Regions from separate parts of the Homo sapiens genome. Here regions 2, 3, 4, 5 and 6 are each reported to be linked to region 1. Evidence: microRNA targets listed by miRTarBase, many of them from high-throughput screens and not tested one by one. Region 1 holds a microRNA gene; each other region holds the end of a gene's coding sequence.

Region 1 (4,089 bases):
AAATAACTTAATGAACACATGTCTTTTAGGTCATTGTCAATGCATGGCCCATTGTTATACCTGGATCAAAATCGGTGTTGCTGTCTCTATTGTCCAACCTGAATTATTTTGTCTGTTACTAATTTTAACACCCTTTATGTTTGTGAATTTATAGACAAACTCAAGCAAATGCATAGAAATTTCTTTTGAGAAATAGCCAGCCAGGGTGGCTACGAATTGGTTGATTTTCCGTCTCTCTCTCTCTCTCTCTCCCTTGCCATTTTGATTCATTACTTAGGGAATTTAAATTTGTATTGTTTACATTTAATACTTTCAACATCTAAGAACGATGAAATATGCTAAGAAATTTAGATTTTTGAATATATCAATACTGACTCATCCAACCTTCGATTTCTAAGGCGAATTTTCACTGCATAAGATTTAGTAAACCGCCCTGCCTCTTTCCGTCGCGTGAGCTATGAGGATGTGGCTGAGGTCGGTTTTTCCGCAGTGCGGGTTTCAGGCCTCCTGGCCCTCCAGTGCCTCCCGCCGGCTGGGATGCGCCGAGCAGGCTCCTGCGCAGCAGAGCGGTCTGCAGAGCTCAGCCCTCTGTACCCGTCTACTAAGGCTGCCGGGCTGCAAGGCCTGGCCGAAGGTGGCAAGCTGCATGGGCTCCTGCCCTGTTTCACCTGGTGGGTCCCCGACCCACCCCTTCCTAGTTAAGCCTCGAGGCCCACACTTGAGTCCATTGCACGTCCCTTTGGTGACCAAGTAAGCACTAAAATCCGCGGCTGAGGACCTTATGTTTCTGTTTTAAGGAAGATGATTTAAGAAAGAAAAGGATAATAATAAAGCCTTCATTCTCCTCAATTTCCTTCTTGCAATCCTGCGATTTAGGTTTCAGCCTAAATAAAGTGGAAATGGTTTCCCCATACACTTACAATGTATGTATGTGTGCATTCCTACGTGAAGACCAAAAAGTGTCAGGCAAGGGTAGCAACCAGCTTGAGGGAACGATTTCAGTAAAATATTGTTTTGCTGTATGTGACCTTTTTCTCTTTTTAAATGTTATTTTTCAAATTACCTAATATCCTACTCTTCTTTTGAGTAGGGACGGGACGGTCCTATTGCTTTTCCAGTTTGATTACGGAGAGAGAAAAGGGCCACGGTCAGCACCGCGGACAGCGCCAGGCAGGGAGGGCGCGGCTACTTTGGTGCATCCTCTTAGCTCCTCTCCTTTGTTCCCAACCCCTGCAGGCCAAGGCAGAACAAAGACATCAAGGCTCGCTTTTTCGGCCTGGGTTTTTCTTTGGCTCCAAAGTCGTGGTGCGGAACTGCTACCTCAACATAGTCCACCTCACTGGCTTCCAAACAAATTAATTTACCGAGTCCTTCTAAAGTTTCTGACCTGGTCCTTTCACCTTATCCCACTCCTTTGACCGATTTGGACATTGCGACAATGCCAAAACAAGAGAGTTATCTTGGCGTCTTAAAGCCAGGCATGAACGCCTCGAGATTGGGAAGAAAAAGGGAGAAGTCAAGGGGAAATGCGGGCGGCAAGTGTTCTTCAGATCTTTCCAAAGTTTGGACGTTTCATTTGCTGTTTCTTGCGCAGTGTGGTCAGGACGCTATTTAATGTTACACCTCTCTCTGCTGTTTTGTTTTCCCAGCTTGGCCCAGGACTGCAGACAATCACACTACCTGTTCTTGAAAGAACTAGTGCTTTCTAAATGATTTAACTCTCTGGAATATTTGCACAGGCGGGAACTACTGCTCTCCAGACAGCTGTCAATGAAGCTTCCCTAAAATTCTCCTCGGAGATTTGCCTGCGGATTTCCGCGGCTGTAATGGAAAAGTAGGAGCCTTTCCCTTTCGAACACTAGGTTGCTTCCAGAATCAGTCCTGGGTGGGGGTGGGGGGCATTTATGCGGCAAGAGATGGGTTCCTTTTACTACCCCCTAAATTCCCTGCAATTGCTTTTTCCCCTTTCTGACCCTGAGATGCTTTGGTGTCCTTCAAGTGCAGCCGTAGGCTCCGCTCTTGGCATTCACCGCGTGCCTTAATTGTATGACATTAAATCAAGGTCCGCTGTGAACACGGAGAGCAGAGCCTCTAATCTTGATCCGGAAAGTATAAGACCCACTGCGATTACCACTCTTCTCTCCCTGCCCATCCCCCTCTCTCCGCTCTGAGTCTCTACCCCTAGAGTCATAACTCATAAGCCCAGCTCCTGTCTCTGCTCATCTCTGACACATCTGCCAGAGCCGCTGTTAATTAGTCTGTTCCGTGGAAGTGTAGACGGTGCGTGTGCCTGCGTATACATATGCATATATCTCCATGCCATTTACAGCACACGCCTAAAAACATACATAAGCCTATAAATCTAGTTTTCAAATGACGGCGTGGATCCAAGTTAATTACCCCTCTGGTACAGATCTAATTTTGTAATCGTGTTATTTTACTGAATGCAATTAACCCAGTTGGTTCGCCCTGAATCCTTTCTAAGGCACTTGTAAGGAATGGCAGGTTTTTAAGGACCACGCTATTGCATGTTCTCCGTCATAACCATTGCCAATCATTTTCTGCTGTCAGGGATGAAATCTAGCATATAAAAGAGAAAACCATGCGTGTGTGCCTGTAAGATAAACACACAGATATGCCTGGGCTCTGTGTCCTTTGATAACGTTACCGCGGGTTTGGTTGGGAGATTTTGGGAAAAGAGAGTCCAAGGGCGGGCTGGGTCATCTTTCTTTGTAATGCGGAAAAATTAACTCATCCGCACCTGCCTAGTCCCGAGAGAGCTGGGCGGCCCATCTGGTCTGGCTACAAGTTTGCTGCGGAGAGAAAAGCCTGCTCACTAAAGCTTCCCCACTGCCCAGGAGCGCGGACCTCGGGTCTGGGCCCGGAAGAGGGATTAGGCTCAGGGCAGCGCAGCCGACTCGCACTCCTCAGCCAGTGGCCACAGTCTGGGGCTGGAAGCGCCTGGGCCGGGCGGAGGGAGGGCAAGCAGGAGAGAGAAAAGGGTGAGGGAAGTTGACCTCTACGGGCGGAGCCCTCTGCGCAGCGGGCAGGAGGCAGCGGGCGCGACGGCTCTTTTCACGGCGTCCCCTACGGCGTGGTCGACCCGAGGGAAAGGCCCGCTCCCGCTCCAGAGTCCGAGGAAAGGAGAGAGAGCTGAGAGCTGGTCTTGCGCAGAGACCCCAGAATGCGCCCCTGAAAAACAGAATCAAAGCGCAGTGTTAGGGAGGCGGGAGAGAGGAGGGGGAGGGTGGGGAGAGGGACACGAGGCGGGAGGGAGCATGCGAGGGATACAAGGTGACAAGAGGACAGGACCCCAGTCGGCCGGTCGCGACCTCCGTCCCCAGGCTTCAGGGGGACGCGGAGGGGACCCTGAGCCCACGGAGCGCGGGGCCCGCAGCCCGGGGGGAGGGGGTGGCGCGATGACTGTAAGCGCAGGTCTGGGCTGCGGAAGTCCAGAGGAGGGTGCATGCGCTGCGGATACTGCCGCGTCCAGAGAAACGATTTCGGGAGCTGGAGCAGTGAAAACGAGTCCGCAGATGGTCCTTCTGTGCAGTCCCAGCCGTTCCCGCATTCTGCACCCCCTTTCCCAGCCTCACCCCCTCCCTTGGACCACACGCCAGACCCGCACTCTCGAATCTCCACCCCTCTTCGTTTAGGACCCTGCAAACTGCAAGACCGGCAAGAGAATCGAAACGATCGATGAGAGAAAGAATTACATATACCCATAGCCCTAGAAATCCGGAGAGAGACCTGCTAGCCCTGTTCAAACCTGCAGAGGACCAAAACGTTTTCAATCGCTGCTCAGCGCGTTCGCAGAGGAAAGAAGAGGCTGAGAGCCTTCCGTGGTATAAGGTGCTTTAAGGTGGGAGGTGGGGGTAGGGAGGGGGTGGGTCGGAGCGGTCCGGTCTTTCCCCCTCGCTTGCTGATCCAGAATTAGGGATTAATGGCTCGCTCCAGCCAAACAAATAAGGCATCTGCCTTCAGCACAAGAGGATTACACGGGCTGCTGACGTCACCAGTCAGACAGATGTTGGCTCCCAAAGTCCTGAGCAGCTCGCTGTGTCCTTGAAACCAAAGAGCCGCAGAAGG
Region 2 (4,089 bases), not on the chromosome of region 1:
GGTTAAAATCTGGTAGAACAGTCTGTTTTTTTGAGATGGGGGTGGTTTTGGTCATATTAAATTCACTTTTAACAAATACATCTTAAAATAATCAGAAGTATGAGTTTTGAATATCTTTATGATAGTCATATTATGTTAAAAGTTTGGAAACAACATAAATGTCTTAGAGTAGGGAAAATGGTTAAATATATCATGACACATCCATGTGATATGTTGTTAAAACCATGTTTTAGAAGGATTTTTAATGTCATAGATGCTTAACATGCCGTATGCTAAGTAAACAAAAGATAAAAATGCAAATATAATATCCTAATTTTATTCAAGAAAAAGTATGCTGTCACATGCTTGTTTTAAACCCAATTACTTATGTATAATAGAAAATATACTACTAGAAATAACCTCATATTAATTGAAACCTCAGAATATTAATTAAAAACTCAGAATATTTTTCAAATTTTCTACATTGATCTTTTGTGACTTTTAGGATCAAGAAGAGTTAAAAAATTGCTCAGAAAAAAAATGTGTAGCTTAGTATTTGCTATTACATGTCTTGTAATGCTTGGTTTTCATTTTATAAGGCAGGTGAGCTTCATGTTTTTTTCTTCCTCTTTGGTAATTTATTGCGTTATGTTTTGCAGATGAGAAGTTAAAATGAATGTGTCATGAGAATGGGCTTAACACATCGTTGGTTTGAAAACTTCCATTTTTAAAAATTTAGAGTTTAGTCATTAGAAAAAATAATGGACTGGAAAGTTATATTTATATCCAAATATACCTATTTCAAAGTGTATTTGTGAGGCCTGTTTTAGCCTGTGTCTTTTGTATTGTGTGTTGCTAAAGAATTCTACTTTTAGTAGGCTAATCAACAATGAAAGGGTTAGAAAATTGCTGTGGAACATCCAGGTGAACTTCAGGAAAGACAGTGAAAAATGGAAAACGTTGGAGCTTCTGTTGAGATAATCTTCATTAGGTATATATCTTAGGGATACAGCCTTTTCTTTATCTTATAGCAGGAAAAAAAAACTTTTGAGGGAAATAGAAGGGCTGCGTTACACAAAATAAACAATGGCATTGTCATAGGCCTTCCTTTTACTAGTAGGGCATAATGCTAGGGAATATGTGAAGATGTTTTTATGAAGTCTCTTTCTGATCACGAACAATAGCTTGCGCTCTACTCTGTAGTTATGTGGATTGCCGAGCAATGACCCTTTTCAATTTCTTATTTCTGTGTTACTGAGGACCCTAATCACTTAGGGATGTAATTTTATAGTATAAACTTTCTGTACAGTTTTTCTTATAGTCTAATAAGTAAAAAGTGTCCTTCAAATTATGATAATTGCCTATGTACATGGATAAATTAAAACACTGCACACGGAGTACTTGATGTCTTCTTTTGATTTTAAAAAATACAAAAACACTGATTTTAACTTTTATTCATGCAGAAGATTATCTAGAAGAAAACCCAAGTCAGAATAAAGAGAACTTGCCCAATTACAGTCACTGAAAGATTATGGGGGTAGCTTTTTCTCCAGAGTAGAACTTTAAGTAACATATGTGGTTTTTTTTATATTAAGTAAAATATGAGTATGAAGCTTCTCTGACAAACTTTAAATACTTTTTAATATTTTTCAGCCTTAACATATTATTTGTTAAAGTCAAAGAATGCAGATATTTTAGACAAGATATTAAACCAATGTATTTAGCTGATTATATTGTTTAAAGCACATGGCATGATATTGTAAGTGTAAATGTTTGGGAACAGATTGAAAGTACGTTCCTTATGCAAGGTAGCTTGGCAGCTTTATTTACATCTGTTTTTCTGACTTACAGTTTATTGTGTTGATATGACTTGTCTCTGTGTCCCTACCCAAATCTCATCTCGAATTGTAATCCCTATGTGTTTGAGGGAGGGACCTGGTGGGAGGTGACTGGATCATGGGGGCAGTTTCTCCTATGCTGTTCTTGTGATAGTGAGGGAATTCTCATGAGATCTCATGGTTTAAAAGTGTGGCACTTCCCCTTCACACTCTCTCTCTCTCTCCTACCACCATGTAAGATGTGCCTTGCTTCGCCTTTGCCTTCTTCCATGATTTTAAGTTTCCTGAGGCCTCCCAGCCATATGGAAGTGTGAGTCAGTTAAACCCCTGTAATTTACAAATTACCCAGTCTCAGGTAGTATCTTTATGGCAGTGTGAGAACTGACTAATACATGTGTCATTATTGAGTTGTTAGTTCTTTAGGCTCTGACGCCATATGACTGTTTCAGCACATGGGTGTTGAATACCTCACAAGTGGGGGAGAGTGCAGGAAGTCCACACTACTTCTGCTGGAAGGCCCATGTGGCCTGGCCTCTTGCCTTGTCTCTCCACCGCCTCTGTGCCCCAGCCACAGTGAGCTGCTTACATGTTTTCAAATGGGTTGTGTTCCTTTCCCTCCCAGCGGCTTTGTCCACACTGTTCCCTTTGCTTAGAATGTTTTCTCCAAGGCTCTCTAGAACCTGTTTTTACCTGATTTATACCAGAAAACCTTAGCCCCCAGCCCAGAACCATTCTTCCTCATGGAAGCTCTTCCAGATCCTTCAGGGTGTATTGGGTTCTTCTAAGTTGCTGTGATCTTGCAGTTTTCCTTTTTAGCTTACCTCAACTTAAAATAATGAAGAATCTCTGATAATGTGGGTGTGGGTGTCTCTCTCTTCCTTAAATTGGAAGCTCCTTGAGGGCAGGGACTGCGTCCGTTTTGTTATCGATGATTATATTGATAGTGCCTAGCAAAAGTAGGCACAAAATAAATATTTTTTTGAATGATATATAAAAAGAGTAAATTAGAATAACCCTTTTGGAGGATGAATTGGCAATATGAATAAAAAGACCTAAAAGGGGGATGGTGGTGGGCTAAATGCCTTTTGGCTTAGCAATTCCATTTCTAATAACTTGTCCTAAAGAAACCATCAGACAAATATACATGTAAATATATTTTAAGAAAGCGTCTTCACTGCCAGATTTTATAATAGCCTAAAGTATAATAGAAAGCCACTCTAATTTACAATAATAGGGGATTTGTTAAGTACATCATATTACATACCTAAAGTGAAATATTAAGTAGTCATTAAATGGTTTTGTTAGAGAACATATTGACATGGAATAATGTTGATGACATTTTCACACGGAAGATTCATAGTGGTGCCATTTTTATAAAAACAAATATATCTGCATGATATGTACACCAGTGTCTCTGAATGATGAATTTCTATTGGCTTATTTATGTTTTCTGATTTTTTTTCACAATAGCTCTTTATTGTGTAATGAAGGTTTTAAAAACCCCACAAAGAATATAGTTCAATGCAAGTTTGAGTCCTGCTGTTTTAAAGTGATAATGTTCAGAAGGGAGGAAAGGAACAGGTAGTGTTTTTCAAAGAACTCTGGGGGTGAAGATGGGAGTTCAACAGTGCCATGAGTTAGAAATCAAATTTGCATTGCCAGGAATAAAATTGCACGTAAAGGGAATTTTCAGAGACAAAATGGAAAAGAATGGTGTCAAGGATAAACGAAACAATGCCTTTATTTTTTAGTCCTAGTATTCACTGGTAGCAAACAACAGCTCCAACTTGTGTGCATGCTGCTCATGATATCTGGAAGGCCTCAACTGCAGCCTCATATCCTTTGCCCTCTTCCATTTGAGTGTTCCTGAGTGCCCCAGTGGGGATTTGGTTGTAAGCCTTCAGCAGTGATTTGCTGCCAAAAAGTTCATGGAAGAAAGCTTTGAGTTTTTGTAAGAAATACTAAAAAGCCCTGACATCGTGTAGGCCAGACAGCCAAACTTAGTATAACTTATTAACATTTATTTCTCTCAAGTATATTAGTGTATATGGTCATGCATTCCTGTGCACATATCTTTTCTTCAGTGGATCTTTATCAGTTCCAGGTTCTGGCAGCTGCCTGCTACAGTAATCCACTGTATTCCCAAAACTGATCTTCCCCTTGTAGATTTGGCAGATTTATTGTGTAATGCAAATCAGTGGACCTACAGGGCATTTCATTTCAGATTATCATGTACTTGTAGGCATTTGTCATTTTGTCTTTTTGAAGAGGA
Region 3 (4,089 bases), not on the chromosome of region 1:
TGTGGTATTTTTGCTGGGATGGAGTCCACAGTGATGCTAATCTGGGAACCACACTTGAGAACCACTGCTTTATTCCTAGAGTTAGCCAGTGTGTGTTGTAAGGTAAGAATAAAAGCAAATGAACTATTCCTTCATTGTATCTCTTATCTGTCCCTGACAGGCAGCATGGTGATTCATTTGATGCTTCCAGAAACCAGAGAAATCTATGAATTAGAGAAATTATGGACCCTACGTTCTTATGATGACCAGTTAGCTCAGATAGCACCTGAGACAGTACCTGAAGACTTCATTCTTGGAATAGAAGATGATACTTCATCTGTGACTCCAGTGGAGTTAAAATGTGAATAAAATATTTTATGCACTGCGTTAGTCATTTCAGATTTGGATTGAGTCACTTATTGGAAAATACAGCTCCTAAAGTCCGTCTCCTTGGTTAGGCTGCTCTTAGGACAAGGCTTGTGTACCTCATGGGCACTCCTGCTAACTGGCATGCAGAGACTGTCGATAAGTGAGCTATACCTGCAACCAAAAATCAGTACATTCTACCCAAAACTTATGACACGCTGCCTTTATCCTGGAAATGTCATCAGAATTTCCTGGAGTTAGCACTGGCTCCTGTGCTTGACTTCTCTGCTCAGATTTTTATTAATTTAATTTAGCTTAAATGTAAATCTTAACCCTGTTTGTTTAATGGAATGGCAAAAATTTTAAAAAATAATATAAAACATAGCCCACTGGTCTTATTTTTATACTTTGAGGTGATAATATTCTTCTAGGAGGACTTCTGTAACCCTTCCAGAATACTCCAGTAACACAAGAAAGTAAACAAAGTGTTTGTTAGGAAAAACTCTGAACGCTCTAGTTCTTAGTTCATATGCAAGAGTATTATCAAGGTTCACATTAAGTACCATGGCTGGACATGGTATAACAGAAATCTGCGTAGAGTTTGAAAAAAAATTCAGAACATTCCCATTCAATTGAAAACCAAAAATAAAACATACTACACAACAAGCTGCACCTAAATGATGAAAAAATTTATTCTGCGTCAAGGTATCTGGAAAATGAAGCTGCATTTGGGGCACATTATACATGAGGAATGATCCATATATGGTGAGTACAAAACTCAATTATAGAATTATTTCTTAGCTAGTACCAGATACTCCAAATTACAAATGCTTAAGTAAAAGTAAAATATGATTTGCCATACTAAAAGGCTAGAAGTGAAATATGACAGAATTTAAACCAGCAGATATAAATGCAGCACCTATGTGTATATTTTTAAAAAATCAAATATTGGGGAAAAAAATCAAATACTGAGAAAAGCTCTGGCCTTAAACACATCTTACCTGAAATCCAACCAGAAAGCCAGTCCATGATTTTAGCAATTTTAATTCATTGTATGAAAAAAAAATCATGAATGCTAGGAGAATCCAGTGACAAAAAGGGCACTTTTTTGGTTAAAACTACAAAAGAAACTTGTTTTCAGAGAACATTAAGGAAAACACTTTAAATCATTTTCAAAATGTCTAATTGATCTTCAGAAAAACATCTAGTCTGTATAGAAATTCATCTTGAAATAAGAATGAGGCAGTGATTTTTTTTTTAAAGGGTTATATATATGTCCTTTAGATCAGTGTAACATGACTGTGATCATCTTACAAACAAAACTCAAAAAATCAATTCAGAGAGCAGCGTGGCCTTGGAGACCACCCACACCCAACACAATTGTACGTACTGGGCTTTGCTGTCAAGGAGTGAGCAAATGAGTTCGTTATCAAAGGTCATATGTTTTCACAGTCATTCAAATTATATCCCAAAAACTTTTCTTGTATTCTCTATCTTTTGACTTTTTTTTCAAAGAACTGATTGCACAGTATACAGAAATCCTGTTATACTTTACTACTTAAGGTGGAGTCTAATTTTTTTTTTTTAATTTATCAGTGCTTAAAAATCTTCAAAATAGCTTAGTGAGGCTCATGACAGTGCTGGCCCCATGGAAATGTAGCCTTTTGTTGCGTTTAAACACTGTCACACCATCTATGACTGTCCCATTGGTCTGAAGTGTAGTGGCAAACTAAGCATCCTATAAGACAAGCTAAAGCTTGCTTTTTGCCAGTCAGTTGAAAGTCTTGCATCTCTTCACTGATGCACTTTCTTTAGGTATTGATAGTCAGAAGCACAAAGCATTTATTATGCATTCAATCATGTAGCTAAACAAAAAACTGAAGTCTCCTGAAGCCATTTAAACCAGCCGTTCCAAAATCTCCTGCGACCACTTTGTTAGTACCGTCAAAAACTTTCCCAACTATAAATGAAAGAATAAATGGTAGTGCTGCTCTCCAGATACTAGGCACTGCTCCGTATTTTTGAACATTTGATTTAACTAATAACTGTGTCAAAAGCCTCAAAAAACCCTGAAATTAATTTTCCAGCTTTACTGTCACCAGCCAGAAGTAAAAATCTTAATTTGCCTGTTAGCTGATTGCTGTTAAATTTTAAATTTATTTTTTAAAAAACGGTTGGACTTCTATCATTATAAAGTATATAAAATTTTCAAAAAAAAGGAACAATTTTGCTTTTCATTGTATTACTGAATACCTGAGGTAGTTGAGTAAAAATGCACGTTTAATACCCCTGCCAACACCATTCAGCACTTCCCTTAGGTTACTCATGTTAGTGTTAGGTAAAAATAAAACTGAGAACAGTTTTTCTATGCTAATGGCTTAACATTTAAGTTCCTGTGATAATTATTCTGATCCAATTTTAACAATTGGATTTAGGAGCAATCTATTTGATGAATTTAGTGAAAGCATCATTAAGCCAATTTCTGGCATTATGGGGGAATATTAAGAAGAATTAGAATATCTGTTATACTGTGAGACTACAACAAAGGGAAGTGCAGAGCTCTTCTCTTTCCCTCCCTCCCCCACCCTTTTTTTGTTTGTTTGTTTGTTTGTTTTAAAGCTGGGTGTCATACATTTCAGAGAGCATAAAGTATACATTCTCACAGAGACAGGAGTTCAAAAGTTGCCTGGTCCTCAGAAACAACTGGCTAGGTAAAAACTTGTGCATGTGATTCTGGATAGGGGGTCAGCGCCCATCTGTTGGTTAAGCAATCTGTCTTTGGTTTGGCATCTGCCTCTGTGGTGGGCTGTTTCCTGAGCCTTTACTTCCGTCTTGACTGAGGTGGTCCACTTTGCAGAGCCTTCTGTTGTTGGTGCTGCTTTACCTGAGTCAGAATTTCCTGAATTTTTCTCTGGGCAACCTAGAAAAGGACAGAGCTTTGAAATTCCACTTGATCAAAAGCTACTAAAAGTTATTGTACTCCTTCATTTCAACAATTTCAAATAGAAATCCATTTGATGATTAAAGATACATACTAGTCAGTTTGCTAGTAGTCTCTGAAATCACCCGCTAAAAGGGAGATGAAAAGTCTTAAGCATCAAACAACCTTAACTAATTCTATCAGGTAGGAGCACCTGTGGGAGAATTGCTTCCACGTGAGAAAGATACAATAGCTTATTTTAGAGCCCACTTGCCTGGCAAGCATAGAAGTGACCAGTTATTTTGACAACCACTTGGTCATTCTCATCAGGTGTCTGGTCACGAGGGACAACAACTTCTGCACTTGACAAATTCTGAAGTTCATTCACCTGAAAGAGATAAATATAAATCACATTAAGTGGCAGTTTTAAAACCTTACTTCCTAAGCACTTACTGTGCGCCAGACAGTGAGCTATGTATGGCTTTACAAATTTCATTTAATCCAGTGGTAATTCCATGAGGTTATTAGAATTATCCCCACTTCAAGATGATTAAGGCTCATCCAAAGAAACTGATTTGTCCAGTTATACAAGTGAATGGCAAAACCAGATTCAAATCCTGAGTCTGATTCCAAAGTGTATGTACTCAATCACTTCAAAATTATAAATAGCTTTGAAACCCACTTACAAGTTATATGTATTAGAGACTAGAAACAGTTTGCTTTTTTTCCATTACAGATGTAACAAGCTGTAGATGAAATTTTTAAAATTCCTGTTAAGTGTCTGTTCCATAAAAAGCTAAAGTTTTATCAGGAGAACGTTAAAT
Region 4 (4,089 bases), not on the chromosome of region 1:
TAAAGTGAGTTCTGATGGGTTGTTTTGCTTTATTTTATTTTATTTTTTTGAGATGGAGTCTTGCTCTGTTGCCCAGGCTGGAGTGCAGTGACACGATCCTGGCTCTCTGCAACCTCTGCCTCCTGGGTTCAAGTGATTCTCCTGCCACAGCCTCCTGAGTAGCTGGGATTGCAGACCCACGCCCGGCTGGTTTTTGTATTTTTAGTAGAGACAGGGTTTCGCCATGTTGGCCAGGCTGGTCTCAAACTCCTGACCTCAGGTGATCCATCCGCCTCGGACTCCCAAAGTGCTGAGATTACAGGCGTGAGCCACCACACCTGGCCAGGTCGTTTTATTTTAAATGAAGGATGTCTTTTAATGTGGCAATATGAAATTAACCATGCATGATATAATCAGCTTGCTTTTCTTTGACAGAAAAAGTGGATAATTATTGCTGTGTCAGTGGTTCTGGTTGCCATAATCGCTCTAATTATTGGCTTGTCAGTTGGCAAATGATGGTGTGGATAACGTCAGTGTGCATGCCTCTCTGCCAGGGTGGGAGTAAGTAACTCATCAACTAATTTACTTATTAACTTTTGCAATTAACCAATAATAGTATTTGCTTAATTGTAATAGACATAAAACTAATAAAAGCTTGCCAGCCACGCAGTACAGATAATGCCATCTAGTGATACATCTGCCTGTGTGCTGATTCGAGTGCCCAGCCACTGTGTTTACTGAGAACAAGCACAGGCTGGGCGGTAACTCATTTTTAAACCAAGGTCACCTTCTTATCCCGTTTTTAAAAGTGTTTTTGAGACAGGGTCTAGCTGTGTCACCCAGGCTGGAATGCAGTGGCGTGATCATGGCTCACTGCAGCCTCGACCTCCTGGGCTAAAACTGTCCTCCTACCTCAGCCTCCCGAGTAGCTGGGACTACAGACGTGCACCAGCACACTCGGCTAATTTTTAAAAAAATTATTTTTAGTAGAGACGAGAACTCTCTGTATTGCCCAGGCTGGTCTCGAATTCCTGGCCCTCAGCCTCCCAAAGTGCTGGGATTATACATAGACATGAGCCACTGTACTCAGCCTGAATCTTTTGTTTTTGATCTAAGACCATTAGCTCTTTACATGTAGTGGATCCTTCATTAAATGTCATAGAAATTCAGTGAAGATTAATTCTCAGTTGTAATGTTTTGTCTCCTGAGTTTTAGCTTTTAGAGTAATTGCAACACTGAAAGGTACTTTATAAAATACACTAACGCATCATTTTACTATGGAATCGAGGGCATGGATGAACGCTGAGAAAAACATTGACTGAAAGGAACATCCTTCGACCTTTCTATAGGCAGCATCTATTTTATTTAAAAATATTTCCTTTAATATTAAAAGGAAAATTACGTATTATATTTAGTTAGCATGCCTGTTAATTCTTAAAGAATTCTGAATATAAAAGGTATCAGTTTATTTAAAGAATCAAGGTGTGAGTGTCACCTTTCCTAAACTTCAGCAGGCTTTGTGGTTTCCCCCTGGTTTTCTTCTGCATTGGGAGCCATCCTTGCACTGGCCCTGAAGTGGCAATGCTGTCGGTGTGTTACAGGTGGACACAGCAGTGATTTCTCTGTAAATGTTTGGCACAATTCTTGTATTAGACAGTTGTGAACTGTTCCCAGGTGTCTAGAGTGTGGCAAGTCATCCCCAATGAATTTATTCTTGGGTTATGGAAGTGACTGCAGACTTGATAGTCACCCAAGGCTTTTTAAAAAGTTAACATACAGCAGAAAGGAATCACGAGCATGGTTAAGTCTCACTATTGCTTTGTAATCTTTAAGATTTATTCCTTCAACATGGCAACACCCTGTCTCTACAGAAAAAAAAAAATCCAAAAACTAATTGGGCATGGTGGCACACGTGCCTATAGTCCCAGCTACGCCAGAGGCCGAGGCAGGAGGATCACCTGAGCCTGGGGAGGTCGAGGCTAGAGTGAGTCTAGATCGCACCACGGCACTCCAGCCTGGGTGACAGAGCGAGACCATCTCAAAACAAGAGATTGATATCTTAATGTGAGCATCTGTTACGCTCACCATGCAGTTACCAGATGAGAAGTTTTCCAGTTAGTCTTCTGACATTTATGCAAAAGCCACAAAATTACACCTGAAATTACTCTGTAAGGAGCTCTGGGATGCTGCGTGTGTTAACATTCCATTATTTGGCAGTCAGAACTCTCTTACCGTCTATTTTTATTAGGCAGGATGTTTGTGTAGGATGTTTATTAGGCAAGATGTTCTATTTTTTTCTTCTTAGCTTTGCTGAAAATATTGTACGTGATTTTTCTTCATTGTTATAGTAGTATTTTTCAATATTTTCATGATTCTAACATGTACTTTCTGAGTTTTTTCCTAGTAGCTATAATATGGTTAGTTTAATGTGGTTACACTAAAGATAAAATTACAATTTGTAGCGCGGACACAGTGAAATGCGCGACTTTTCATGGGCACTACTTGGCATTAAGGTTGACTAAAAGAAGGCTCCTCTCAGTGTGACCCCTGGGGAGTGGGGCTTGAAGTCCTGTGCCCCGGGCCTGGCTGGCCATTTCACCCTAGTGTCTGTAAATAAGAATGAACATAGAAGGATCCTCATTCATAAAAAGCAGACCAAAATGAATACCAGCAGTTATCTTTGCATAGGAAGGCAGTGGTTAATGTCCTTAACTTCACTTTTAAAATATTAACATAGCCTTTCATCCTTTAGCAATTGGCCTTCCTGGGGCTGGCTGCTGCCCCTCCCTGCAGGGTGTGCCAGGTGCAGGCCTGTCACCCCGGAGCATGGGTGGGATGGGCTGCTTTAAGGAGACAGGTGGAGTCTTACAGGTATTCGGTGAGAGGGCCCTGGCCCAGACCTGGAGCTGGACTCCCCAGGGTGTACCCTTTCCACTCTCGCTGTCACCAGGAGATTAGATGACTCCTGAGTCCTGTACCCTAGACTCCATGTAGTTGACAGTCATCCTGAAAGCCAGATGTGGCAGGAAAGTGCACACACATCGAGCACCCAGACACGTGGCAGGCAGCACAACAGCAGCAGGAGATGAGAGCACGCTGCGTGGAGCTGACTCCAGGTGGCCCAGCTGCCAGCACACTCACTTGCTGAGCGGGAGGGCGCGCGCCTCCCTCTGGAGGGAGGGAAGGCATCACAGAGAAAAGGAAGAAGAGGTTTCTCTAGGAAGGTGCTGAGAGTGGGGCGTAGGAGCGCATATAGAGGATGAGAGAGTGGCTGGGGCTTTGCAGGAAATGTGCGTGATGTTAACAGGGAACCAGAGTTTGAGGGAGGGGCCCTCCTGCAGGCAGCTCTCCCCGGTCCTGAGGAGTCACTGGGAGGCTCACCGGGGCCTGCCATGCGCCTCTTGATAACCCTGTATAACTGACTGAGCCGGCAGTCTTGGAACTGTCCAGGCTCAGCAAACAGGATTTCTTAGGTAAAAGCACTCGTACATTTGGAACTGTAATTAAAATGATGGATCTCTGCTGTTCAAAAAGAGAACTCAAAGTCCTACAGCGCGGTGCCTCCTGTTGTGTCTTCCTTTCCTTCCCTCAGACAAGCTTCCTGGAGGAGACTCCATTTATTAAGCCAAAGGTGGTCTCGCTTTGCCTTGTGTGAGGATACTTGTTAATTTTAAAAAAGTTAAATGCTGTGTCGCACCCTGCTTCCAGACCATCAGTGCAGTAGAAGAATGAATGAATGTCTTGTTGATTTCTTACACATTTGTCATATTTAAATGTAAAAAATGGATAAGGCCAGGTGCAGTGGCTCATGCCTGTAATCCCAACACTTCGGAAGGCCAAGGCAGGAAGATCGCTTGAGCCCAAGAATTCGAGACTAGTCTGGGCAACATAGCAAGACCCCATCTCTTAAAAACATATTTTTTAATTAGCTGGGCATGGTGGTGCATGCCTGTCATCCTAGCTCCTTGGGACACTGAGGTGGGAGGATTGCTTGAGTCCAGGAGGATGTGTTTGCAGTGAGCCATGTCTGCACCACTGCTCTCCAGCCTGGGCGACAGAGTGACACCTCCTTTCAGAAAAGAAAGAAAAAATAGGATTTTTCAGCCAACA
Region 5 (4,089 bases), not on the chromosome of region 1:
CTAGCCAGTAGATCTTGAGTCTGTCCATGTGCCCAGTACATGACCACCACAGCCGTATTTGAGAAGGCCAACACACTAAGGCTATTTATAACCACGGAAATCTCACAGGGTCTACGTCACTCCCTTCCCACCCACAACTGAGCTGGTACTGATATCCACTGCTGGGGGACCAGACAGATCACATCACTGGATCCCTTGCAAACATTCACCAGCACCAGCATGGAGTATGGAAACCTCACTGGGGATGAGACCCAGAGGAGCAGCAGTATTCACGGTAGTCTGGCCCTCAGGGACCGCTACTCTTAGGGGTGTGGGAGTGCATCACATTAAAGGAGCATCGTATGGGACAAAGGAAACCAGACTGCAGGCCTTGAGTCCCTGATCTTTCCACTGTGGAAAGTTTCTTTCAGCAGAGGCACAGCTCATCATTTATACCTGTAACAGGAGAGAGCACAAAATCTCTCCTTCTTTCAAGCAAGCGGTTAATCAATCTTCTAAAACCAGGATGTGTGTTTTGAGCTAATCTCTGCCAGCAGAGTATCTTAAACTACTCAGCCTACTGATGAAAAAAAAATTTCACCAGCAGAGGGCTGAAAAACAATGTGGCAACACCAGAAAGTTGTCTGACATTGCCTTGATCTGAGAGGATGATAGGAAATTTTTTGGCTGATTTGATCTCTTAGTGTCCTGAAGTTTAGTGTCATTACTTACATCAAATCAATCTAAGCTATTAAAAAGAAAAGAATTCTGGTGAATGAGGCAAGATCTAAAAGTGACTTTTTAATCTTATGAGCTATCATTTTAGATTTATATATCTCATTTTCTCAAATGGCATGTATAGTTAATGAGGGTCAGGGCATTTCTCATGTATATCCTCCATGTCACTTACTGTGGGGATTTGTACTGCACTAATGTAGACAAATAATTTATTGTGAGAGGTTGTTGTTGCAAGTGGCAAGTTAGGCCACTGAATTGAATGATTAAATTCTGCGTTTAAATGAGTTCTGGAGGAGCAAGACTAGTTCCCACAATGTGAGAAGATGACTTTAACTTTCAGTCCTTTAGTCTAGTAGGTAGGAAAAAAAAATAACCAGAAATTAATTTGATTCTCTGCACCTGTACACCTGACTGCTGAGAATGATATGTTCAATTGCTCAGGGGAAGAACACTTTGAATAACTGAGAGTAAGTTAGAAATTATCACCTATACATAAAAACTAGCATGCTATATTGTAATACCTGTGATATGGTTTGGCTGTGTCCCCACCAAATCTCATCTTGAATTGTAGTTCCCATAATTCCTGTGTGTTGTGGGATGCAGTGGGAGGTAAATGCATCATGGGGGCGGGTCTTTTCTGTGCTGTTGTTGTGATAGTGGATAAGTCTCATCAGATCTGATGGCTTTATAAAGAGGAGTTCCCCTGCACAGGCTCTCTCTCTTTGCCAGCCGCATCCACGCAAGACATGACTTGCTCCATCTTGCCTTCCGCCATGACTGTGAGGCCTCCCTAGCCATGTGGAACTGTGAGTCCACTAAACCTCTTTTTTTTCCCAGTCTTGGGTGTGTCTTTATCAAACTGCAACAGAAGAGGGCACAAACTCCTCCTTTCAAGGAAAAGAAGAAAAACGTAGAGTTCAAAATGTCTGTGGTTAACCACATAATCTGAGTCTTCTAGTAAATACTATTTCCTGGGAGAAGTGTAGTTACTTTGGAAGGAATCTGAACTTTTAGTTATTGATATGCCACTTAGTATTTAAAAGACAGTGATTTACAAAAAGACTATGCAGAAAGGCCTGGGCTTTCCAAGTTTTCTCCAAAACCCCTCAGGTATTCCTGATGAGCAAGTGAAGCATTTAGAGGGTTTAACTCACCATGTATGTCTAACGTTACTACATGTAATTTATGAGTCATTGTTTTCTACTCAATAGCTAAATACTTTCACGTATTTTTACTTATGGGATATAATTGAGGAAGAGATACAAATTCAAAAAGCATCCAGAACTGAAAGCTCTTTCCATTTAATTTATGGTATATACCAGGGTTGGCAAACTGAATCTGCAGAACAAATCTGACCCATTATTTGTTTTTGCAAGTAGTTTTTTTAGAACACAGCCATGTCCATTCACTTACTCATTCTTTATGGCTAGTTTTGTGCTACAACAGCACAGTTGAGCAGTTGTGACATAGATGGTATTGACAGGATAGTTATTGACAGGATTGACAAAGTTGCAAATATTTACCATTTGGCTTTTTACAAAAGAAGTTTGCCAACCACTGATGTATATTATTAGATACATTAGTAACAAATGACATCATAAATTTCTTTCTTTTTAGCAATCATGTATACCAAGGATATAAGAAATACATCTCATTAGAAAAAAATCTTCTATTCAGCCGTCTTGCTTCACCTTCCTCTAGAACAAAATCTTATTGCCAAATAATTTAAGAAAATAATTCGGTCTTCAGATTCAATATTTGTGCCTCAGGTTTCCTTCCTAGGAATGAATTCCCACTTCAAAAAACAGACACACACATTCCAAAAGTGTTCTTTTATTTCTAGTAACATATATTGTATAAATACTCTATTTTATATGCACTTCCACAAAAGCGATATAATTTAAAAGTTTTTTTCATTAGAAATAAATGTATAAAAATAAATATGTTATTATAGGCATTTATTACTAACTATAGTCCTTCTTGGAAGGAACACCCAAACCAATACTTATAAAGTACATGTAATTTATAGTAACATATTTTACTATATACATATGGAAAAAATCATATTCTCACAGAAGAGCTGAACAGACATTCACCAGGATACGACTGTTGGACCAGCTGCTGGAGATGGACCTGCTACCCCTCAGCAGCCTCCCCACCACAAGACAAGTGATCTCAATGTCCCCAAACCTGTGGGACCCTGTTCTACACACCTCATTTTTGTTCCGGCGTTTCATCCTCCTTGTGTGATTGTACTGATTTTCATGAGACACAAGTTACTTCTTTACATCCATATTCCCAAAGCAGGGTTACATGGTAGGAAAGAAAGGAAGTTGGAGGTACTAAGCTCATTGTGTCTCCTCTAGCTTTTACCAGCATCTAATGCTTCACTGCTTTTTTTCCATTGTAGACTTTAATGCACTTGAATAAATACATGGAGTTGTTTTTTCCTCAAAATGAATTACACAAATAAAGACTGAGATGGTCCAAAAAAGGAAAGAGGAAGCCATTTGCGTTATTTCACGTTGCTGAGCCTTTCTCTCATGTTGAACAATCTGAAGTTTTAATTCTCGGTAGAAATAATGTATAAACATTCTCTGAAACCATAGCAGCCATAAACAGTGCTGGTCAAAGATCCTATTTGTACTCCTTTCTCCCCCCATTGTTAGTGAGGTAAAGTAAAACAGGTCTTAGTAAAATCTCACTTTTCTCCTACTTTTCATTTCCCAACCCCCATGATACTAAGTATTTGATAAGTACCAGGAAACAGGGGTTGTAATAGTTCTAACTTTTTTTGACAATTGCTTTGTTTTTTCTAAACTTGTAATAGATGTAACAAAAGAAATAATAATAATAATGCCCGGGGCTTTATTATGCTATATCACTGCTCAGAGGTTAATAATCCTCACTAACTATCCTATCAAATTTGCAACTGGCAGTTTACTCTGATGATTCAACTCCTTTTCTATCTACCCCCATAATCCCACCTTACTGATACACCTCACTGGTTACTGGCAAGATACGCTGGATCCCTCCAGCCTTCTTGCTTTCCCTGCACCAGCCCTTCCTCACTTTGCCTTGCCCTCAAAGCTAACACCACTTAAACCACTTAACTGCATTCTGCCATTGTGCAAAAGTCTATGAAATGTTTAGGTTTCTTTAAAGGATCACAGCTCTCATGAGATAACACCCCTCCATCATGGGACAGACACTTCAAGCTTCTTTTTTTGTAACCCTTCCCACAGGTCTTAGAACATGATGACCACTCCCCCAGCTGCCACTGGGGGCAGGGATGGTCTGCACAAGGTCTGGTGCTGGCTGGCTTCACTTCCTTTGCACACTCGGAAGCAGGCTGTCCATTAATGTCTCGGC
Region 6 (4,089 bases), not on the chromosome of region 1:
GACCTCATCTACTTCTACCATGTTGGCAAGGTCTACTGCGGGCGTCACCATGCCGAATGCCTGCGTCCACGCTGCCAAGCCTGTGACGAGGTTTGGGCCTCCCTGCCCAGGGGTGGGAGTTGAGGGTGGGCAGGGCCAGGAGCAGGCTCATCTGACAGCCACAGATGGCCTGCGCCCTCCAGATCATCTTCTCCCCTGAGTGCACGGAGGCTGAGGGCCGCCACTGGCACATGGATCACTTCTGCTGCTTTGAGTGTGAAGCTTCACTAGGAGGGCAGCGCTATGTCATGCGTCAGAGCCGCCCCCACTGCTGCGCCTGCTACGAGGCCCGCCACGCGGAGTACTGTGATGGCTGTGGGGAGCACATCGGTGGGTGAATGCTGTGGGACTGGACAGAGGGATGGATGGACAGCTGGGCCACAGTCCTACCCCACCAGGACTCCTCCTGTCCTCCAGGCCCCATCCTCCATTGTGCCCTGTACTTTGTCCAGCCCCAACACTATAGACCTGTACGCTTGGTTGCAAGTCCCACTCCCAATGTCCCCACTATGCCATGCTTTCTAAACCCCACCTAACACAATGCTAGGCCACCACCACATGTCTACACCCACCTCCAGAGGGTGCTCTAATTCCAGCCCCAGGGCTCGCCCTACTCCTAGCCTCTACCACCCCAAGCTGTGCCCCGTTCTCCTCCACTCTCCTGTATCAGCCTAAGTCAGGCCTAGCTTCTAGCTACACCCTATCCTCTGAGAACCACTCCTTTCTCAACAGGGCCACTCCCCACCTGCTAAGCCCTGCCCCCACCAGCCAGGCCTCCTCTTCAGGCCCAGCTTTCCATTCTCCTTCCACTTGGAGCCACCCCCTAATGTCTAAGCCTGGCCCGAATCTTAGAGTCCAATGCCCACCCCGCTCTGGGAGAGAGCACCCTGGGAAAGAAAGGGAGGAGTGAGAGAGAGGTTCACCAGCCAGTCTCCAGGAGAGAACCAAAACCTGTTTCCTGCTTTCTCCAAAAGGGCCCCATTCTGGAGGAGGGAGGAAGGCACCCAGGGGTGCCCTGCCTCGGATTCCCCACCTCTTCTTGAGAAGGGACTCGTTCACGAGGGGTGGGGTTACGCCTGGGGGTTCTGCCTCAGTTTTTCCCCCTCGTCGTTCCCCACAGGCCTGGACCAAGGCCAGATGGCTTACGAGGGCCAGCACTGGCATGCCTCAGACCGCTGCTTCTGCTGTAGTCGCTGTGGGCGGGCCCTGCTGGGCCGCCCATTCCTGCCACGCCGAGGCCTAATCTTCTGCTCTCGAGCCTGCAGCCTTGGGTCCGAGCCCACAGCTCCAGGGCCGAGCCGCCGCAGCTGGAGTGCCGGCCCTGTCACAGCCCCACTTGCAGCCTCCACAGCCTCTTTCTCTGCTGTGAAGGGGGCATCAGAGACCACCACCAAAGGCACCAGCACAGAGTTAGCGCCAGGTGAGCTAACCCTCTAGCCACACCCAGCCACAGCCCAGTCACCCCTATGTCCTTGCCCCTGCCTCAGCCCTGGCCCTTCCTTCTTGACTAGCCCAGGCCCTTCACCTGCTGTATCCCTGGGCCCCGCCCATTTCTCAGCTCATCCTCCTTCCCCACACCAGTCCAGGCCTGGTTTCCATCCCAAACTACACCCGCCTCATGAACCCTGGTTCCACCCTGTCAATACAGGGCTGGTCCCCTACCTCAACTTGTCTCTGCTTGACCCCAAGTTCCTCTTCCTCTTCTCCAGCCGGTCACCCTTCATCCTCTGCAGTCAGGCCCCACCCCTTTTATTGCAAACCAAATCTACTCCAGCCTATGCCACACCTCTTCCATCCGAAGCCACCCCGGGTGCCCTGGCCACGCCCCCCACACCAGTCCCATCTTGCTCCGTGTTCTTCCTTCCAACCCTCTCAACACCCAGAGCCTGCTCCAGGCCTCACACTTCCCAGACTTCCCACCTCCCTGCCATTCTCCGACCCCTGCCCCCACTTTCCCAGTCTTAGTGGAGGAAAGAAGGCCCTTCCGCAGGCCTCCTCTTAGGAGGGGGCCAGTGGGAGGGCAGATACAAGGAGTCACTCTGTCTCCCCCTTAACAGCTACAGGCCCTGAGGAGCCCTCCCGCTTTCTGAGAGGGGCTCCCCACCGCCACTCCATGCCGGAACTGGGGCTCCGCAGTGTCCCCGAGCCGCCCCCAGAGTCCCCCGGCCAGCCTAACCTGCGCCCAGATGATAGTGCCTTCGGTCGTCAGAGCACCCCACGCGTCAGCTTCCGCGACCCTCTGGTGTCTGAAGGAGGCCCGCGCCGGACCCTGAGTGCACCCCCGGCCCAGCGCCGCAGGCCACGCAGTCCCCCACCCAGGGCCCCCAGCCGTCGCCGCCACCATCATCATAATCACCATCACCATCACAACCGCCACCCAAGCAGACGTCGCCACTATCAATGTGACGCGGGATCAGGGTCAGACTCGGAATCTTGCTCCAGCTCGCCCTCCAGTTCCAGTTCCGAATCATCAGAGGATGATGGCTTCTTCCTAGGAGAGCGCATCCCTCTGCCCCCGCATTTGTGCAGGCCCATGCCTGCTCAGGACACTGCAATGGAGACCTTCAACTCCCCATCTTTATCGCTCCCCAGGGACTCTCGCGCAGGGATGCCTCGTCAGGCCCGAGACAAGAACTGCATCGTGGCTTGAAGGCAGGCCGTCCTGGAGGGGGCTCCATTCTCCAGTCAGAGTAGATGATGAGGCCCATGCCCCTCACCCCCACGCCCCGCCCCTACAACCTAAGTCATAAATCCTCTTCCTCCCTCCTTTATCAGTTTGTTTCTATTTTTGTTTCTGTTTTAGAGACTTGGTCTACCCTATTGCCCAGGCTGGAGTGCAGTGGTGTGATCAGGGCTCACTGCAGCCTCAAAAGTTTTGGGCTCAAGCTATCCTCCCACCTCAGCCTCCCAAGTAGCTGGGACTCCAGGCTCGTGTCAGCGTTCCCAGCTAATTTTTTAATTTTTTGGTAGAGATGGGGTTTTGCCATGTTGCCCAGGCTGGTCTAGAACTCCTGGGCTCAAGCAATCCTCCCGCAGCCTCCCAAAGGACTGGGATTACAGGCATGAGCCACCGCACCGGGCCTCTCGTTTGTATTATTGAAGTAATTTAATATTTGTTGTAAAACAGGCCTGGCTTCTTTGCCTCCTTGCCCCAGCTGTTTCCACTCCATTTCCCCCTCCTGATGCTTGAAATTTACCCACATTTGATGAAAGGATTACTTTATTCATTATCGTATATTTTAACAATGTTTATTATTCATTTATCCCTCTATAGAACCACCACCCACACCGAGGAGATTATTTGGAGTGGGTCCCAACCTAGGGCCTGGACTCTGAAATCTAACTCCCCACTTCCCTCATTTTGTGACTTAGGTGGGGGCATGGTTCAGTCAGAACTGGTGTCTCCTATTGGATCGTGCAGAAGGAGGACCTAGGCACACACATATGGTGGCCACACCCAGGAGGGTTGATTGGCAGGCTGGAAGACAAAAGTCTCCCAATAAAGGCACTTTTACCTCAAAGAGGGGGTGGGAGTTGGTCTGCTGGGAATGTTGTTGTTGGGGTGGGGAGGAGTTATTTCAATGGAGGAGTTATTTGCAGATTGCAGAGAGAAATGAGGGAAGTTCGCCTACACCGGGCCATCTGCGGGGTCTGCAGGTGAGGAAAAGAGAGAAAGCATTGGCTGAATCTATATGCCCATTTTTTAAAACAAGATCCAAAGTCCATGAACATTTTACACACAAGAATACCGAAGCTTATGGTACCTATTGGTACAAAAGCCCTAAGTACCAATACGAGACCAGAGTTGGCATTCGTGCCTTTAAGAGATCCCTTTCCTTTTTCCCTCTGCCCTCTCAGCAACCCCCTTACCCCCAACCAACACACACACACACTTACCAGTGGGGGCTGCTGTATGTCTTGGCTGCCGAACGGGGAAGGTGACATAGGCATCATAGCCAAAGAGGCACGTAGCGATTAGGCCCAGTACCTGGGGGACAGGATAGGAGTGAGGGGGTTTAGATTAGCTGGTCAGGTTACTCAGTCTCTTAT

What was found. Region 1 holds the annotated microRNA hsa-miR-124-3p (UAAGGCACGCGGUGAAUGCCAA, at 2,020-2,041, opposite strand). A microRNA usually pairs through its seed, bases 2 to 8, with sites in the 3' UTR of a target mRNA and lowers its output. Matches are read on the target gene's strand: a 7mer-m8 pairs with bases 2 to 8, a 7mer-A1 pairs with bases 2 to 7 and ends in A, and an 8mer does both.
Region 2: the mRNA of MFSD1 is a reported target of hsa-miR-124-3p. The part of its 3' UTR that is shown has no 7-base or 8-base seed match.
Region 3: the mRNA of MALSU1 is a reported target of hsa-miR-124-3p. The part of its 3' UTR that is shown has no 7-base or 8-base seed match.
Region 4: the mRNA of STX2 is a reported target of hsa-miR-124-3p. The part of its 3' UTR that is shown has no 7-base or 8-base seed match.
Region 5: the mRNA of ADAMTS1 is a reported target of hsa-miR-124-3p. The part of its 3' UTR that is shown has no 7-base or 8-base seed match.
Region 6: the mRNA of PLP2 is a reported target of hsa-miR-124-3p. Seed matches in the 3' UTR shown: 7mer-m8 at 3,542-3,548.

What each region holds. Positions count from the first base shown.
Region 1 is chr8:64,377,162-64,381,250 of GRCh38, reverse strand. MIR124-2 (microRNA 124-2) reads right to left here and starts at 2,102; the gene lies at 1,994-2,102. It overlaps MIR124-2HG (MIR124-2 host gene), which reads right to left. Exons shown (of 3, transcript NR_109792.1): 2 at 2,762-3,192.
Region 2 is chr3:158,828,341-158,832,429 of GRCh38, forward strand. MFSD1 (major facilitator superfamily domain containing 1) reads left to right here. Exons shown (of 16, transcript NM_022736.4): 16 at 639-1,376. The coding sequence ends at 642. Among named protein-coding and RNA genes, the nearest start is that of MFSD1, 28 kb to the left of the region's middle.
Region 3 is chr7:23,309,196-23,313,284 of GRCh38, forward strand. It overlaps MALSU1 (mitochondrial assembly of ribosomal large subunit 1), which reads left to right. Exons shown (of 4, transcript NM_138446.2): 4 at 161-2,534. The coding sequence ends at 348. It overlaps IGF2BP3 (insulin like growth factor 2 mRNA binding protein 3), which reads right to left. Exons shown (of 15, transcript NM_006547.3): 14 at 3,540-3,653; 15 at 1,014-3,265. The coding sequence ends at 3,167. Among named protein-coding and RNA genes, the nearest start is that of MALSU1, 12 kb to the left of the region's middle.
Region 4 is chr12:130,792,446-130,796,534 of GRCh38, reverse strand. STX2 (syntaxin 2) reads left to right here. Exons shown (of 11, transcript NM_194356.4): 10 at 415-540. The coding sequence ends at 495. Among named protein-coding and RNA genes, the nearest start is that of STX2, 45 kb to the left of the region's middle. RefSeq lists an enhancer at 3,017-3,311.
Region 5 is chr21:26,833,753-26,837,841 of GRCh38, forward strand. It overlaps ADAMTS1 (ADAM metallopeptidase with thrombospondin type 1 motif 1), which reads right to left. Exons shown (of 9, transcript NM_006988.5): 9 at 2,003-4,089. The coding sequence ends at 3,827. Among named protein-coding and RNA genes, the nearest start is that of ADAMTS1, 9.6 kb to the right of the region's middle.
Region 6 is chrX:49,174,273-49,178,361 of GRCh38, reverse strand. PLP2 (proteolipid protein 2) reads right to left here. Exons shown (of 5, transcript NM_002668.3): 4 at 3,937-4,027; 5 at 3,127-3,690. The coding sequence ends at 3,668. PRICKLE3 (prickle planar cell polarity protein 3) reads left to right here. Exons shown (of 9, transcript NM_006150.5): 6 at 1-90; 7 at 183-369; 8 at 1,160-1,459; 9 at 2,097-3,560. The coding sequence ends at 2,689. Among named protein-coding and RNA genes, the nearest start is that of PLP2, 4.4 kb to the right of the region's middle. RefSeq lists enhancers at 548-842, 1,361-1,862 and a cis regulatory region at 446-946.